2 linked regions of the Homo sapiens genome follow. The protein of the gene in region 1 purifies or fractionates together with the protein of each later gene. This does not show direct contact. Each region holds a gene or a part of one and is shown on either strand. Other genes may lie near its edges.

The links.
Region 2: the proteins of ODAPH (region 1) and MAN2B2 purify together in Homo sapiens (affinity purification with mass spectrometry; 2 studies listed by BioGRID and IntAct, with this or other methods). This does not show direct contact.

The regions. Positions count from the first base shown.
Region 1 is NC_000004.12:75,551,169-75,559,398, forward strand, and holds the start of ODAPH (odontogenesis associated phosphoprotein isoform 2 precursor), read left to right. Parts: upstream 1-4,897; 5' UTR 4,898-4,914; coding exon 4,915-4,981; intron 4,982-5,372; coding exon of another isoform or gene 5,373-5,416; intron 5,417-8,230. UniProt on the Homo sapiens protein: May promote nucleation of hydroxyapatite.
Region 2 is NC_000004.12:6,591,913-6,599,188, forward strand, and holds part of MAN2B2 (epididymis-specific alpha-mannosidase isoform 1 precursor), read left to right. Parts: intron 1-1,260; coding exon 1,261-1,438; intron 1,439-2,621; coding exon 2,622-2,820; intron 2,821-5,200; coding exon 5,201-5,391; intron 5,392-6,285; coding exon 6,286-6,442; intron 6,443-7,276.

The DNA.
Region 1 (8,230 bases):
GTTGTAACACAATGATAAGTGTTTGTGTATCCAAACATAGAAAAGGAAGAGTAAAAATACCATATAAACGATTAAAAAAAATACACCTGTAGGGTACTTACCACAAATGGAGCTTGCAGGATGGGAAGTTGCTCTGGGTGGGGCAGTGAGTGAATGAGTGGTGTGTGAACGTGAAGGACATTACACTCCTAAAGACTTTATAAACACTGCACACTTAGGCTATACTAAATTTATGGAAATATTTTCTTCAATAATAAATTAACCTTATCTTACTATAACTATTTTACTTATAAATCTTTAAATTAAAAACATTAAATTTGGCCAGGTGCGGTGATTCACGTCTGTAATCTCAACACTTTGGGAGGCCGAGGCAGGTGGATCATCTGAGGTCAGGAGTTCGAGACCATTCTGACTAACATGGTGTAACCCCGTCTCTACTAAAAATACAAAAATTAGCTGGGCATGGTGTTGCATGCCTATAATCTCAGCTACTCCGGAGGCTGAGGCAGGAGAATTGCTTGAACCCAGGAGGTGGAAGTTGCAGTGTTGACCCGAGATTGCACCATTGCACTCCAGCCTGGGCAAAAGAGTGAAACTCTGTCTGAAAAAATAAATAAATTTTATTTATTTAATTAATTTAATTTTTTTTTTTTTTTTTTTTTTTTGAGACGGAGTCTTACTCTGTCACCCAGGCTGGAATGCAGTGGCCTGATCTCGGCTCACTGCAAGCTCCGCCTCCCGGATTCATGCCTTTCTTCTGCCTCAGCCTCCTCGGTAGCCGGGACTACAGGCGCCCACCACCACGCCTGGCTAATTTTTTTGTATTCTTAATAGAGATGGGTTTTCACCATGTTAGCCAGGATGGTCTCGATCTCCTGGCCTCGTGATCCGCCTGCCTCGGCCTCCCAAAGTGCTGGGATTACAGGCGTGAGCCACCGCGCCCGGCCAAAATTAAAAATTTTTAACCTTTTGACCTTTTGTAATAACACTTACCTTAAAATACAAACACATTGTACAGTAGTATAAACATACTTTCTTTGTATTCTTATTCTATAAGTTTTATTCTATTTCTAAAATTTTAATTTTTTTTTTACTTTTTAAACTTTTTTATTAAAAACTAAGACACAAACATATACATTAGCCTAGACCTACACGGGGTCAGGATCATCACTGTCACTGTCTTCCACCTCCACATCTTGTTCCACTGGAAGATCTTCAGGGGCAATAACATGCATAGAGCTGCCATCTGCTATGATAACCATGCCTTCTTCTGGAATACTTCCTGAAGGACCTGCCTGAAGCTATTTTAGAACAGACTTATTTTTTGTAAATAGAAGGAGTACAGCCTTAAGTAACAATGAAAACTATAGTATAGTAAATGCATAAACCAGTAATGTAGTCATTTATCATTACCAAGTATGTACTATGCATAACTTTAAGTGCTATACTTTTTTCATGTCTAGCAGTGCAGCAGGTTTGTTTATACCAGGATCATCAGCACAAACATGTGAGTAATGTATTGTGCTATGACTTTATGGCATCTACAAAGTCACTAGGCAATAGGAATTTTTCAGTTCCATTATAATCTTATGGAACCACTGTCATATATGCAATCTGTCATTGACAAGAAGTCATTATACAGCATATGACTGTATATTTAATTAGAAGAAAAAACATAAATTTTGGAATCAGAAAAATCTCAGTTCTGACTCTCAATCTTACCACTTAATGTCTTTCAGTCTTGAGGAAAGAAATGTTAACTCCTCTCAATACCTCATAATTTCTCATTGTGAGAAAAAGACCTAACACAAACTGGCCTATGTACATGGGCTCTTCCCCTTAACACACTGGATTAACAACTGTGACTCAAAGCCATTTATAGCCTTCTTGACATTGGGAAACATACACATTAGAGTCTCATTGATCAGTCTGCAACTAAATGATTTGTGGATAATTAAAGTATATGACTAAAAAGATATTTTTACCAAAACTACTGCATTTGAAATAAGCTTTCAGAAATATTTTCATATTTTTAAGGTATGAGGATTTTTGGCAAATGAATCTGATAACTTCACAACAGTTTCATTGATTTTACATGTTGGGAAACACTTGGCTCCACTGTATATATAACATACAAAGACATAAGATATGCCGAGACTTAGTTATTCTATACACTAATAACAAAGAAATGTTGGAATTTTCTGCTGGATAAGAATTTGATAAAATTTTTTTAAATTGTGTTCCTTGGCCAGGCGCGGTGGCACACACCTGTAATCCCAGCATTTTGGGAGGTCGAGGTGGGCAGATCACCTGAGGTCAGGCATTCGAGACCAGCCTAGCCAAAATGGTGAAATCCCGTCTCTACCAAAAATACAAAAAAATTAGCTGGGTGTGGTGGCACACCCTCATGCCTCAGCCTCCTGAGTAGCCCTGTAATCCCAGCTACTCGGGAGGCTGAAGCAAGAGAATTGCTTGAGCCCAGGAAGCAGAGGTTGCCGTGAGCCAAATGGTGCCACTGCACTCCAGCCTGGGCAACAGAATGACACTCCATCTCAAAAGAAAAAAAAATGTATTCCTTTTAAAATTTTGTTCCTTTATTTTATAAACTTCAGAACAACAGATTTGAATGAAAAAATAAGTTATTTTGCTTTTGTTATTTATTTTCATCAACATTTAAGATGAAAGCTCATTAGCACTCCAAAACAAAAAAGAAAGAGAATCAGAAGAAGTAATAGAAATGTCCATCAGTTAAAAGTTTGGTTAAATAAATTACAGTAAATCTATAAAATGAAACACCAGGCAGTGGCTGAAGTGATTATGTGAATCTAATTCTATTGGCATTGTGGTGTATTTACAATGCAGGGGACAAAGTAGCATATGTGATACTGACCCGTTGATGTAAAATTACAGACTGTGTTTGTCTGCTTCGTTCTCCCATAGCCTTCAGTCCTTCCCCTCTCTTAGCACTCAAAACGCTTTATTGTTATTCCTGAGTTAATTTTTAATGTCTCCTAAACTATAAGTTCCATGAGAGCAGGAATCTTATCTTTAGCCCCAGCACCTTGACCAGTGTCTGACACTGAATAAATAAAAGTCAATACAGAATTATTGAATGAATGGGTAGTCTAAGGAACTCAATTTGTCCTGGATGTTTCCTGATTCCTTTTCAAACTGCTGACAAATCATCCATCTGATTATCTGTTCTGGAAGTTTGCCTAGGACTAACATCAAGCCTGAGGAACTTTCCATTTTCTATCTGTGAGTGTTTGCATCCTTATTCATTTAGACTTTCAGTTTGCACAGCCTCTCTTGTTAGATTGTCAGTCCTTCAAAGACAGGGACCATGTTTAGTTTGTTCTTTTTTTTTTTTTTTTTTTTTTTCCATGATACCCAGGAAAATGTTCTGCTTAAAGTGGAGGTCTTTCCAGTGATTAACTGATTTGGCAAGTACAGCCTCCTAAGAGAATAAATTATCAGTTGGGATTATTATAATTTAATGACAATCACAAACACTCCCTTTCACAGGCCAGGCACTGTGGTTGGAGCTGTATGTCAATTATCTCCTTGATATGAAACCAACTAAGTGGCCATCGACCAACGAGTGGATAAAGAAAATGTGGTAGAAATACACCATGGAATACTACTCAGCCATAAAAAAATGAAATAATGTCTTTTGCAGCAACTTGGATGGAGCTGGAGGCCATTATTCCAAGTTAAGTAACTCAGGAATGGAAAACCAAATATCGTATGTTCTCACTTATACGTGGGAGCTGAGCTATGAGGACACAAAGACATACAGAATGATATAATGGACTTTAGAGGCTAGGGGTGGGGGAGGTTGGGAAGGAGGTGAGGGATAAAAGACTACATATTGGGTGCAGTGTACACTGCTCGGGTGACGAGTGCACTAAAATCTCAGAGTTCGCCACCATAGAGTCCATCCATGTAACCCAAAACCACTCGTACCCCAAAAGATTGAAATTTAAAAAAAATTTTTTTTAAAAGCATCTCCTTAATTCACAAATTCCTCTGAGGGTAGTACCACAAGTCCCATTTTACAGGTGAGGCCCCTGAGGCTTCAGCAAGTCTCAGGGACTCACCACAGTCACTCAGCTAGTAAGAAAAGGAACAAAGACTGGAATTTTACCTGACTCCAAGGTCCATGTTCTTAATCACCTGTGACAATCCCCTCTCATATATCCAGCAGCTGATGAAGTCTTTCTCTCAGGAAACCAACTGGACATAGACATGTCATGTCCATTTTATATGCAATATGGTGAATCAGGAGGAGCCGTGAAAGGACGACTCACTAAGTTACTCTCCCAATGTTTATGTTTGTTTAGACAGTGACCATCATGACCACTAGGGAAGATCACTTTCTGATTCTGCTGCCCTCACCTCCTGGACAAAAGCAGAGCAGAGAAGCAGCATAAACCCTGGTTGGGGGCCTAAGAATGATCCCCAACTCTCCACTGCAAACCACCGGGGTCAGGAAGCCTCCGGGTAATGCCCTCTCCCTCTTGTTTCGCTTTTTAAGTAGGTAAGCTGCACAGAGAGAAGCACTGTTGCATATTTCTGGACAGCTTATTTCTCTTGCAGAGGAAGACTGATATACACAACTAAAAGGCACTAACATGGGAGAAGATTTGAGAGATTAGAAGGATGGTGAAGGTGCGGTTGTCCAAAATCCCCCTCTGGGGGGAGATGATTGATATCTGGCTGTCATTCCAAGAAGCTTCTGGTTGACAAATACTGTCTGGTATTTCCTTGCTGATTTCTTACCCTCACACCGCAAGCCCTGATCTCTGTGGTCCACTGTGCAAATGCAAATTACCTGAATCAGGCTGCTGGTGACTCACCAGCTCCCCTTTAAAGCAACATCAGGTTCAACGCAGTGACTGCTCAGTAGAAGCCATGGCTCGCAGACACTGCTTCTCCTACTGGTTACTGGTATGCTGGTTGGTGGTAACTGTGGCAGAAGGTAAGGGTTTTGCTTTTATTCTACTGTGGGTCCACTAATTAATAAGTTGTAGGAAAAGACAAAACTGGCTCCATGATTATACGTTCCCATAAATTGGAAATATTTACCTCAGCTTCCATCAGCCTGTGTGGTTAAAGAGAAGGAAGTTGGATTTTGTCACCTGAAGACCTTGGTCCTCGTCTCAGCAATAGCTCTGTGACTTTAGACACACTTAAAATCTCTGAGTATCAGATTCCTCATATGTGAAGTGACAACATTAACAATATCCATCGTTATGGGGTTTGCAAGGACCAAATGAGCTATCATCTGTGAAAAACTCTTCAAGCTAAAAACACTGTACAAATACTAGTTATTATGGTTACAAAGCTAACAATTCCACTTTGAATTACAGCACTGTCCACTTTCTATCTCCAGCAGCATATTAATTTGCACATGGTGGGTATTTAGTCTTTGTTCATTGCTTTAATTAATCACATCTATTGAGCTGCATTTTGGTGCCACAGAGGTGGGCACAGGTTTCTTTCTTTAGGATTTTATTAGATTCCATTTCTCAACTGTTCCTATTCTCTTTCTTTGTTCCCACTACAAAATGTGTCCTGAGCCTTACAATTGGTTTGCAAACCCCTAGGAAAAGGAAAGAAAAGGCTGGGGAAGGGATGAAAAGAGGGAAATACAAGGGGAGGAAATCTTGGGGAGCCTAGATCTAACCTTTTCTTCAGTTTATTTTAATTCCAAAACTAGATGCTGTTTACGGAAGATGGACCTAGGAGTCAAACAGAGCACTTCACCCCTTTCACATGTCTTGGGTAGGGGGCTTTGCAGGGGCTCAGCCAAACCCTGCTCATCCCCAGACAGATTCCCCGTTCCCATCCCTCAGAGCTCACAATAGACAGGAGGAGGGGAGAGACATAAGAGCTGGTTGTGGAACACTCAGAAACCCCCTGATCCAACCTCTGCACACACTCTGGCAATCAGGGGACAGGGCATAGATTATGAACAAAACCTGCCCCCATATCCCAAGGCAAGGCCCCCAAGCCTCACCTACTAAAAGTGACATCTAAAAGAAGCATCATAAAACAAAACTAGCCACCTGCCACTTTCTCTGCAAAAAGTGAACCGCTCTTCAGGAGGCTTTGTAAACACATAGCTAAACAAGTTATAATGAGATTAGAGATTTATTTTATTCACATCTTAAAAACACCCACTGAGGCTGGGTACAGTGGCTCACACCTGTAATCCCAGCATTTTGGGAGGCCGAGGTGGGCAGATCACCTGAGGTCGGGAGTTCAAAACCAGCCTGACCAACATGGAGAAACCCCATCTCTACAAAAAATACAAAATTAGCCAGGTGTGGTGGTGCATGCCTGTAATCCCAGCTACTCGGGAGGCTGAGGCAGGAGAATCGCTTGAACCCAGGAGGTGGAGGTTGCCATGAGCCAAGATCGTGCCATTGCACTCCAGCCTGGGGAACAAGAGTGAAACTCTGTCTCAAAAAACAAAACACCCATTGAAACACCAGATTTGATTTCCGAATTTGGCTCACTTTTCCCTACAATCCCTCGAAGTCCTTCAAATGTAGCTTCATTCTATCCCAGCAGCCCCTGCTTCCAGTTCATCGCTCGTTCACACACACCCTGGGTCTGCCCGACAAGGTCATGTGTGGATCTCCATACTCATCCTCTTCTCACTGATGCACGGCAGCAACCACAGCTGCTCCCTCCACTTGCTTTCACCTCTGTTTGTTGCAGTTCCGCTTTAAGGCACAACATTTAAATGCCACTATGATTTTGCCTTGACAAAGTCTTTGTTAAGACATAATAATTTTAAAATTGCAGTTTCTCTTTCTGACACCTTTGAATTCTTACAGCTATTTGTGCATCACCTACGGCACGTATGGCATCTGCTCTCTGCTGCAGATCCCTGGCTTCATAGCATCTGCCCACTCCTTGAGCTCAGGCTCTTAATCTTAATCATCTCTGCGTTTGCCAGAGCCCCTAATGTAGTAACCTGTACCTGTTGAAACAACTTGACTCACAGCATAGAATTGAAAGGGGCCTGTCTGATACTTTCTGGGCTCTGATATTTTATCTGTGAAATTAGAGATTTGACCAAGATAGTCATTCTTTGAGTCTACAAAATAAATTGAGTTTTGCAGTTATTGTGAGTAAATCAATCATAGAACTTATTCTTTCTGGCTCAAGTCTGAAAGCACATGAGAATTAGTTTCTAAGACTCCATGCACCATGTAAGGGAAGAACTGCACACTTAAACTTTAAGTAGAAAGCTGACTTCTCTTAAAATCAGTATAGTTCACTGCAAGCCAGCTTTGTCTGCCCAAATAACCACAGAGTATAGGTAATTATAAAAAAAAAAAAAGGTCTTTCATCATTACCTTTTTTTAAAAAAGTACTTGTTTTTAAAGTAGTTGTTGGTATGCTGTGAATTTCATGTCTAGACTATAATAAACCACCTTAAAACTGATATTCAAATTCCAAGCAATATTTTGCCTTGTTTTTTCTATTATACTCTAATTTTTTTGTTTGTTTGTTTGTATGTTTGTTTGAGACAGGGTCTCCCTCTGTCGCCCAGGCTGGAGTGTGCAGTGGCACTATCTCAGCTCACTGCAACCTCCGCCTCCTGGGTTCAGATGATTCTCCTGCCTCAGCCTCCAGAGTAGCTGGGATTACAAGTGTCTGCCACCATGCCCGGCTAATTTTTGTGTTTTTAGTAGAGACGAGGTTTCACCATGTTGGCCAGGCTGGTCTTGAACTCCTGAGCTTAAGTAATCTGCCTGGCTCAGCCTCCCAAAGTGCTGGGATTATAAGTGTAAGCCACCACGCCCAGCCAATTTTTAATATAATTTATTATTGCAGATTTTCTGCGACTGAAATTAAATACTCACTGAACTCCACAAAATATACAGAGAGGAACATTCAAGGTCGGCCTGACCATTTAACTCATCAAGTATTTACTGAGCACCACTATAAGCCAGGGACTATTCTAGGTGCTGGAGACACCGGCAGTGACCAAGAGTCAACAGTCCCTGTCATTGGCGAGGTCCTATTCTAGTAACGTGTGTCCCCAGTAGCCCTATCTTTAATGCACAAATTTTATGGGCCTAAGAAAATGGTGCTCAGGCTAACAGAATGTTTCCATAACATTCAAGATTAATAACCGTAGCTAACACTTATTAAGTGTGAACTGTATGTCCAGCAATGTTCTCAGCACTTTACACATTTTATTTCCGGT
Region 2 (7,276 bases), about 69 Mb from region 1:
GCAGCCCACTGACGGAGATGCTGTGAGTGCCCCATCTTACAGAAGGAAAAACTGAGGCACAGCAGCCCGCCCCAGGTCCCACAGCTGGCAGACGTGGTGGAGCCAGCGTTGGATTCAGGCCACCAGCTCTGCAGCCTCCACGTGGTGGCAGCAGTCAGCCTTGGTCTCTGTGCAGTCAGACGGCCCTGGGTTCAAATCCGCACTCTGCCCTGGCCAGGTGCTTAGCCTCTCTTGGAAGAGGAAAGACAACAGGCAAGGCAGAGGGGGTGAAGAACACTGGCCGGGATTAATTAGCGGTCACTGCCATTTGTCAGCCCTCCTTTGTGCCCAGCACTGTTTCTAGCTCCTTTCCATAAATGACTTTCATTTAATCCTCACAACAACCTGCTCCACATTCTACCAGGGAGCTTGGTGAGGCTAGAGGTGGCAGTGCTGGTGGCTGATGACTGTGATCCCAATGCTTTGGGAGGCTGAGGTGGGAGGATTGCTTGAGCCCAGGAATTCGAGACCAGCCTGGGCCACAGAGCAAGACCTCGTCTCTACATAAAATTCAAAAACAAGTCGAGCATGGTGGTAGTCCCAGCTCCTGGGGAGGCTGAGGCGATGGCTTGAGCCCGGGAGTTCGAGGCTGCAGTGAGCCGTGATCATATCACTGCACTCCAGCCTGATCAACAGAGCAAGACCCTGTCTGTAAAAGAAACAGAGGTGGGAATGCTGGAAGGGGCTGCCCAGGTTGGAGAGCTCCAGACAAGGGTTCCATGGCTGCTACCCCGAGGCTGCACAGTGTGAGCAAGGAAGGCACTTAACTGGGGGTTCTCCACACCCCCAGCCTAAGGCAAACAGAGAAAGATGTTAAATACTGAGCCTGTCTTTATTTAAAACTCTGACATTTTGTTCCTCATGGGTTTTTTGCATTAATTTTCATTTTTTAAAGTACTGCATTAAAATATCATTTATCTCAACTACTAAGAATTGAGGCACCCCCATAAATTTTGTGCCCTAGGCCAGGGCCTCACTTGCCTCACCAAGCCCCCGGCCTCTTTGGGGTCCTGAGACCCGGGGTCTGATGGGCGAGAAGTTGGCCTGCGTGAATGAGCAAACAAATCTGTGACCCACCGTCGGTCATGGAGTGGGAGAATTCAGTCTCAGGGTGAAATGATGTGCCAAGGTCCCAAGGCTGGGAGAACATGGCACTTGGGTGTGAGCCCTGGCTGTCCACAGAGTTCGTGTCTTCTGCCCTAACCTTCTGCCCTCGCACAGGTCAGGATTTTACTGGAATGGCGTGGCTGTCTTCCCCAAGCCTCCCCAAGATGGGGTGTACCCCAACATGAGTGAGCCTGTCACCCCAGCCAACATCAACCTCTATGCCGAGGCCCTGGTGGCCAACGTGAAGCAGAGGGCCGCCTGGTTCCGGACACCGCACGTCCTCTGGCCCTGGGTAAGGCAGAGTCCCAGGTGCTGTGCCCTCAACACAGCCCAAGGAGCACTATGCAAGCCCTGGTCCCTGCACCCAGGGCCACCCTATCCAGACCCAGCTAGGCAGCCATGCTCAGCCCAGTGGCTCCATCCTCCTTCCCTGCAGACCCCTGGGCCTCTCCCACTCTACCAGCCCCTCCCCCACCTGGAAAAGCACCCTCACCCACGCTGGCCTCTCCAGCTCCCACTCAGCTCTCTTCCCTGCCTGGGCCGGGCTGGCTCCCGGCTCGGGCACTGCGTGCCTTAGAGTCCATTGAGCTTCAGTTGCCTCCGCTGTAAAATGGGGATGGTGGCAGCAGGCTTCATAGGCTTGGTGAGAGGTGAAGCGTTCCCGGGAAGCCAGTGCCCGGCACGTCGTGGCCATCGTCACAGCTAACCTTTAGTGAGCACCTGCTGTGTGCTGGGCACTGCCCCGTGGGATATATTTGTCTCAGCCATCTAATTTGCACCACTGGGCCTAGGAAGCAGGCTGGTATCCATTTCACAGTTGAGGAAACCAAGGCCCAGAGAGGTTAAGGAATTTTCCTGAGGCCACAGAGTTCCTTAGGGTGGCTAGGAAGGGGTGGAATTTGTGTTCAGACCCAGTCAGGCGGGCCCCAGAGCCTGCCTTCTTCATCCGTGACTGCCCTTGTGAAGGCAAGCTTAAGATCAGTAACTCAGTCATGGTTATTATTGCTGTTATTAATCATTATATTAATTATAATAATTAATAATCATTAATTATAATGATTTGGATAAGTAGTAACACTGATGGGCCTTAAGAGATGCCCAGGGCCGGGCGCTGTGGCTCACACCTATAATCCCAGCACTTTGGGAGGCCAAGGCAGGCAGATCACCTGAGGTCAGGAGTTCGGGACCAGCCTGGCCAACATGGTAAAACCCTGTCTCTACTAAAAATATAAAAATTAGCCAGGTGTGGTGGCGCCTGCAGCCTCAGGGAGGCTGAGGCAGAAGAATCACTTGAACCCGGGAGGCGGAGGTTGCATGAGCCGAGATCAAGCCACTGCTATGGGAGCTGGTTTGGGGCCCCTGTTGGCCGCCTTGGAGACTGGGAGGGCAGCTGGTGGAGGGCAGCGATCGGCCCACCCCCACTGGGCGAGCGCCCTGCTCCCACGGCACAGGATGTTGCTCCCATGTCCCTGCAGGGATGTGACAAGCAGTTCTTCAATGCCTCGGTGCAGTTTGCCAACATGGACCCGCTGCTGGACCACATCAACAGCCATGCTGCCGAGCTCGGTGTCTCGGTGCAGTATGCCACGCTGGGCGACTACTTCCGTGCCCTGCACGCTCTCAATGTCACCTGGCGTGTCCGCGACCACCACGACTTCCTGCCCTATTCCACAGGTACAGGCTTCCAGGGGCTGGGGTGGTAGTTTGGTGGCAGGGAGGGTATAGTCCACGTACCCTCTGCCCACTTCAGTGGCTGCTCGGCACTGCTCTCCAAGCCCTGGAGGGGTTCCAGGCAGGTTCTGTGTGGGGCGCAGGGGCAGAGACTGACCCTCTCTGCTCACTCCACCTGGACGTCCTGGCCACCACATGCACCACCTGATTCCCACAGGGTTCAGCCTCTCACCATTGCCCACCACATGCAGTTTCCTGCCTCTGGCCTTTGCACAGGTGGTGCCTCCTGCTGGGAGCGGCCTCCATCACCTTCTCTTCCTGCATGAGTTCCACATAAACCTCTTCTACGAGCCCTTTCCTGATGCTGAGGCTGACTCGGGCTTCCTTTCACTGCACAGTCATTACTGGGCACCTCCTGTGCATCATGCCTGTGTCCTCAGGCCAGAACTGGGTTGGCCACCAGCAGCACAGCCTGAGAGCTAAGAGGGCTGGCTGTGAGTAAGCCTCTACTCGCTGCCTGTGTGCAAGTCATGAAACCACCCTGTCTCCAAAGGGGGACATTTGTGGTGCCTCGTGCATAGATAGGGTTGCTGTGAAAATTCAATGAGAAGAAGTGCTCTCAGCCTCCTGCCCAGCACAGAGGCAGGGCTCAGCAGATGTCCTAGACCTCTGGGTGCTGCTGTAACAGTATACCACAGAATGGGTCATTGATTAGGAAACGAAGTTTCTTTGGCTCACAGATGTAGAGGCCGGGAAGTCCAAGGTGGAGGGCTGGTGTCTAGAGAGGGCCTTCTTTCTGCATCACCCATGGCTGAAGGCTGAGTGCAAAAGAACAGCCGGACAAGGGGGTTGAACTTGCTTTTCTAACAATCCCAGTCCCATGACAATGACATTAATCTGTTCACGAGGGCAGAGCCTTCATGGCCTAATCTCCTCTTAAGCATCCCACCTCTTAATACAGTCACAATGGCAATTAAATTTTAACATGGGTTTTGGAGGGGCATTCAAACCATAACATTTCCCTTCCAAAGAGATGCCACAGATGAACTCCAGCTGCAGGGCTCATTCTGGCCTGGGCACTGCCTTGACTCACCCATGACCTGGCTTAGTCCTGCCTCTCTGGGCCCCAGCCTCTGGGTCTGCATGGTGACCAGTGGGGCTGCATAGTCCCCGGCTCCTGCTGTTGACACCACATTGGAGGCAGGTGGGGCTGCACACACGGGTTGGGGGATGTCCGTGGATGTGGGTGTGGTTATAGTCAAGGCAGGAGGAGATATGTTAATGTGGGCATGGCTAATGGTGAGGTGGGTGGGGTAGTGACTGTGGGTGTGGCCACATCTAGCAGGTAGGGATATACCCGAGTCAAGTTGGGTGTGGCTCTGTCCAGGTGGGCGTGGTGTCCAGGTGGGCGTGGTATCCAGGTGGGCGTGGTATCCAGGCGGGTGTGGGTGGGCGTGGCGTCCAGGTGGGCGTGGTATCCAGGCGGGCATGGTATCGTGATGACCACTGAGGATGTGGAGCCCCTGCCAGACTGAATGGAATCGGGCCTCACCACCCACTCTCAACATGGCTGCAAAGCTGTGGAGGACCCCATCTGACCCACAGGGTGTGGCCTGTCCCCTGGGCCATGTGACCACCCCTCCCAGTCTGGTTCAGGACCAGTGGGGGAAGAACAGGGAATCAAGGCAAATCTGGGCACATCCCAGACGCCGAGGAGCAGGAAAGCAAAAGCAATAGGAAGCTCCCTTCTGAGACAGACAGCCACTCCCTGGGAGGGTTCAGCCCTCCTGCCTCCTGCATGGGCCCTGGGCATCCTCATCCTCTCTGTCTTGCATCAGGACACTGGCTCCCTGGGGTCTCTGAGCCCTTGCTGCCTCCTACCATCCATCCTCCCTGGACGCCCAGAGAATCCCTGCTGAAACGCATGCCTGTCCTGGCCTCCCCATGCCCACGTCACACATGAAGGCCTCTGTGCAGTCTAGGCCCTTCTCAGTGGGGTCCTGCCCACCTGGCTCCTCCTCTTCCCCTCTGGGTCTCCCAGGCCCTTTGCTCACACAGCTGTTCTGTGTTTCCTAGGCACCCTGGGCTTGCCTCCGATCAGGATCCTTCAGCACCCCACCCCACCTGCCCCAGTGCAGCCTGTCTCTCCCACCCTGCCCAAGGCCCATCCAGGGTTTTCTGGGCAGTTCCTAGTCTGGCTATGGGAGGAGGCCTGAGTTGGGAGCCGTAAGCCCTGGGCTCGCTGCCTGCCCGGCCTGCCTCCTTGGGTGACCCTGGCAGAGGCTGCCTCTGCAGCCCCAGCTTCTCAGCTCTTCCAGGGCTGGAGCTTAGCAGACTTCTGGGTCATGCCGTCTCAAGCTCACCATCTTCCCTTGTCTCCCAGAACCATTCCAGGCCTGGACGGGCTTCTACACGTCCCGCAGCTCACTGAAGGGGCTGGCCCGGCGAGCCAGCGCCTTGTTGTATGCCGGGGAGTCCATGTTCACACGCTACCTGTGGCCGGCCCCCCGTGGGCATCTGGACCCCACCTGGGCCCTGCAGCAGCTCCAGCAGCTTCGCTGGGCCGTCTCCGAGGTAACACCACATTTAGCCACAGTGGCAGGATTGGAACCTCCCATGCTGCGCACCTCCCCTCCCTTGTCCTAGCCAATCCTTCCAGCCCTGGGGCACTAGAGGCCCCACTTTACAGAGGGGAAACTGAGGTTCCCTTTGGTTACAAGGCCAGTGCATGGTGAACCCAGGCCAAGGCTGAGACCACAGCCTGATCCATCCAGCTGGTGGCCTCATTAAGCTTTGTAGCAGTTTAGCAAAAGGGATAAAGGACAAGGTGGAGTGGCATTTGTGTCCGACAGCCCTGCCTGCATCCATATCTCGGCTCAGCTGTGTGATGTCAGGCACATGATTCCCACACCCACCCAAGACCTAATTCCCTCCTGTACAATGAGAACAACGAGCTTGCCCAGGAGGACGGTGGGGCAATTGGATGTGCTGGTGTGCACAGCCTGCTTGGTGCAGTGGCTGCTGAATAGCCAGTTCATGAGTTTCCGTCTCCACCCATCCCCTACTGTACTGATGGGAAAACAGACCCAAGACAGCCTGTAACTTGTCCTCAGTCACCTATCCAAAAAAGGGTCACACCAGCCATGACACTGTAACAGTTCCCCAAAAGGAGCTGCTGGCAGAACATGTCATTATGTTGTGGGAGAAATGAGGTGACTTCAGGGTCCTTCAGAGCAGGGGGTCCAGAGATGGGGGACAATGAGTTCCCACAAGGGCAGGAAAAGTTGGGCGAGCTCCTCAGCTTCTCTTGGCCTCAGTTCCTCCTTCTGTAAAATGGCGGGGACTGCCCCCTTCTCCACTGGCACCTGGCAAGCCAGAATGAGAGCCAGCGCCTAGTAGGTGCCTTGTAGGTGCTTTGCAGAGTCAGGTCCTGATCCTGTTCTTCCTCCCCTCTGGGGGTTGCTGCAGGTCCAGCACCATGATGCCATCACTGGGACTGAGTCCCCCAAGGTGAGAGACATGTACGCAACGCACCTGGCCTCGGGGATGCTGGGCATGCGCAAGCTGATGGCCTCCATCGTCCTAGATGAGCTCCAGCCCCAGGCACCCATGGCGGCCAGCTCCGGTGAGCAGGGCCCTGCAGGGAGGCTGTGGCCCCTTTATGAAGGGAGAGCCTGAGGAGGTCAGGGGAGGGGCTCAACGACCCCAGCTTCAGACTCTGAGTCCACATCACCCATATCGCCCTTCCCCATGGTGAGAGCTCGGACAGGTGGCTTCAGTCCTCCCAGCCTCTGTTTGCTCATCCGTGCAATGAGGAAGGGTTGCTGATGTTACAAGAAGAGCCAGAAATAGCAGCTAACATGTTTTGAGCATTTACTAAGCTCAAAATACCCTTCATGCAGTATTGAATTTAATGCCTCACAAAATCTGTACAAAATAGGAATGGTTACTGTCCTCATTTTACAGCCGAGGAAACGGACTCAAGTTATATGCTAGCCCAGGGCCACTCGGGTAGGAAGGAGCAGAGCAGGGATTGAACCTGAACACGGTGCTGCCCAGCCTTGGCAGAGAGTACGCCGGTGTCCTCAGGGGCCCGGTCCCTTCCTGGCTCCTGGCACTCCCTCCCGAACTCCACTTGGCTGACATCACAGCAGGGCAGCCGTGGGACCAGCCTCTTTGACTGTGAGTTTTCCCACGTGTAGAGTGACTGATCACATGCCAGTGTGCCTGGGACTGAGGGGTTTCCAAACTGGGAAGATCCTGGACAAATGAAGACAGGTTGGCGGCCCTCCGCCCGCATGAGACTTTTGTGTGCATAGGCCGCCAGGTCCCACCCACAGCCTGCACCTGGTCATCTTGCACTTCCTTCTTGTTTTTTGTTTTTTGAGACAGGGTCTCGCTGTGTCACCTAGGCTGGAGTGCAGTGGTGCCAGTCATAGGTCACTGCTGCCTTAGACTC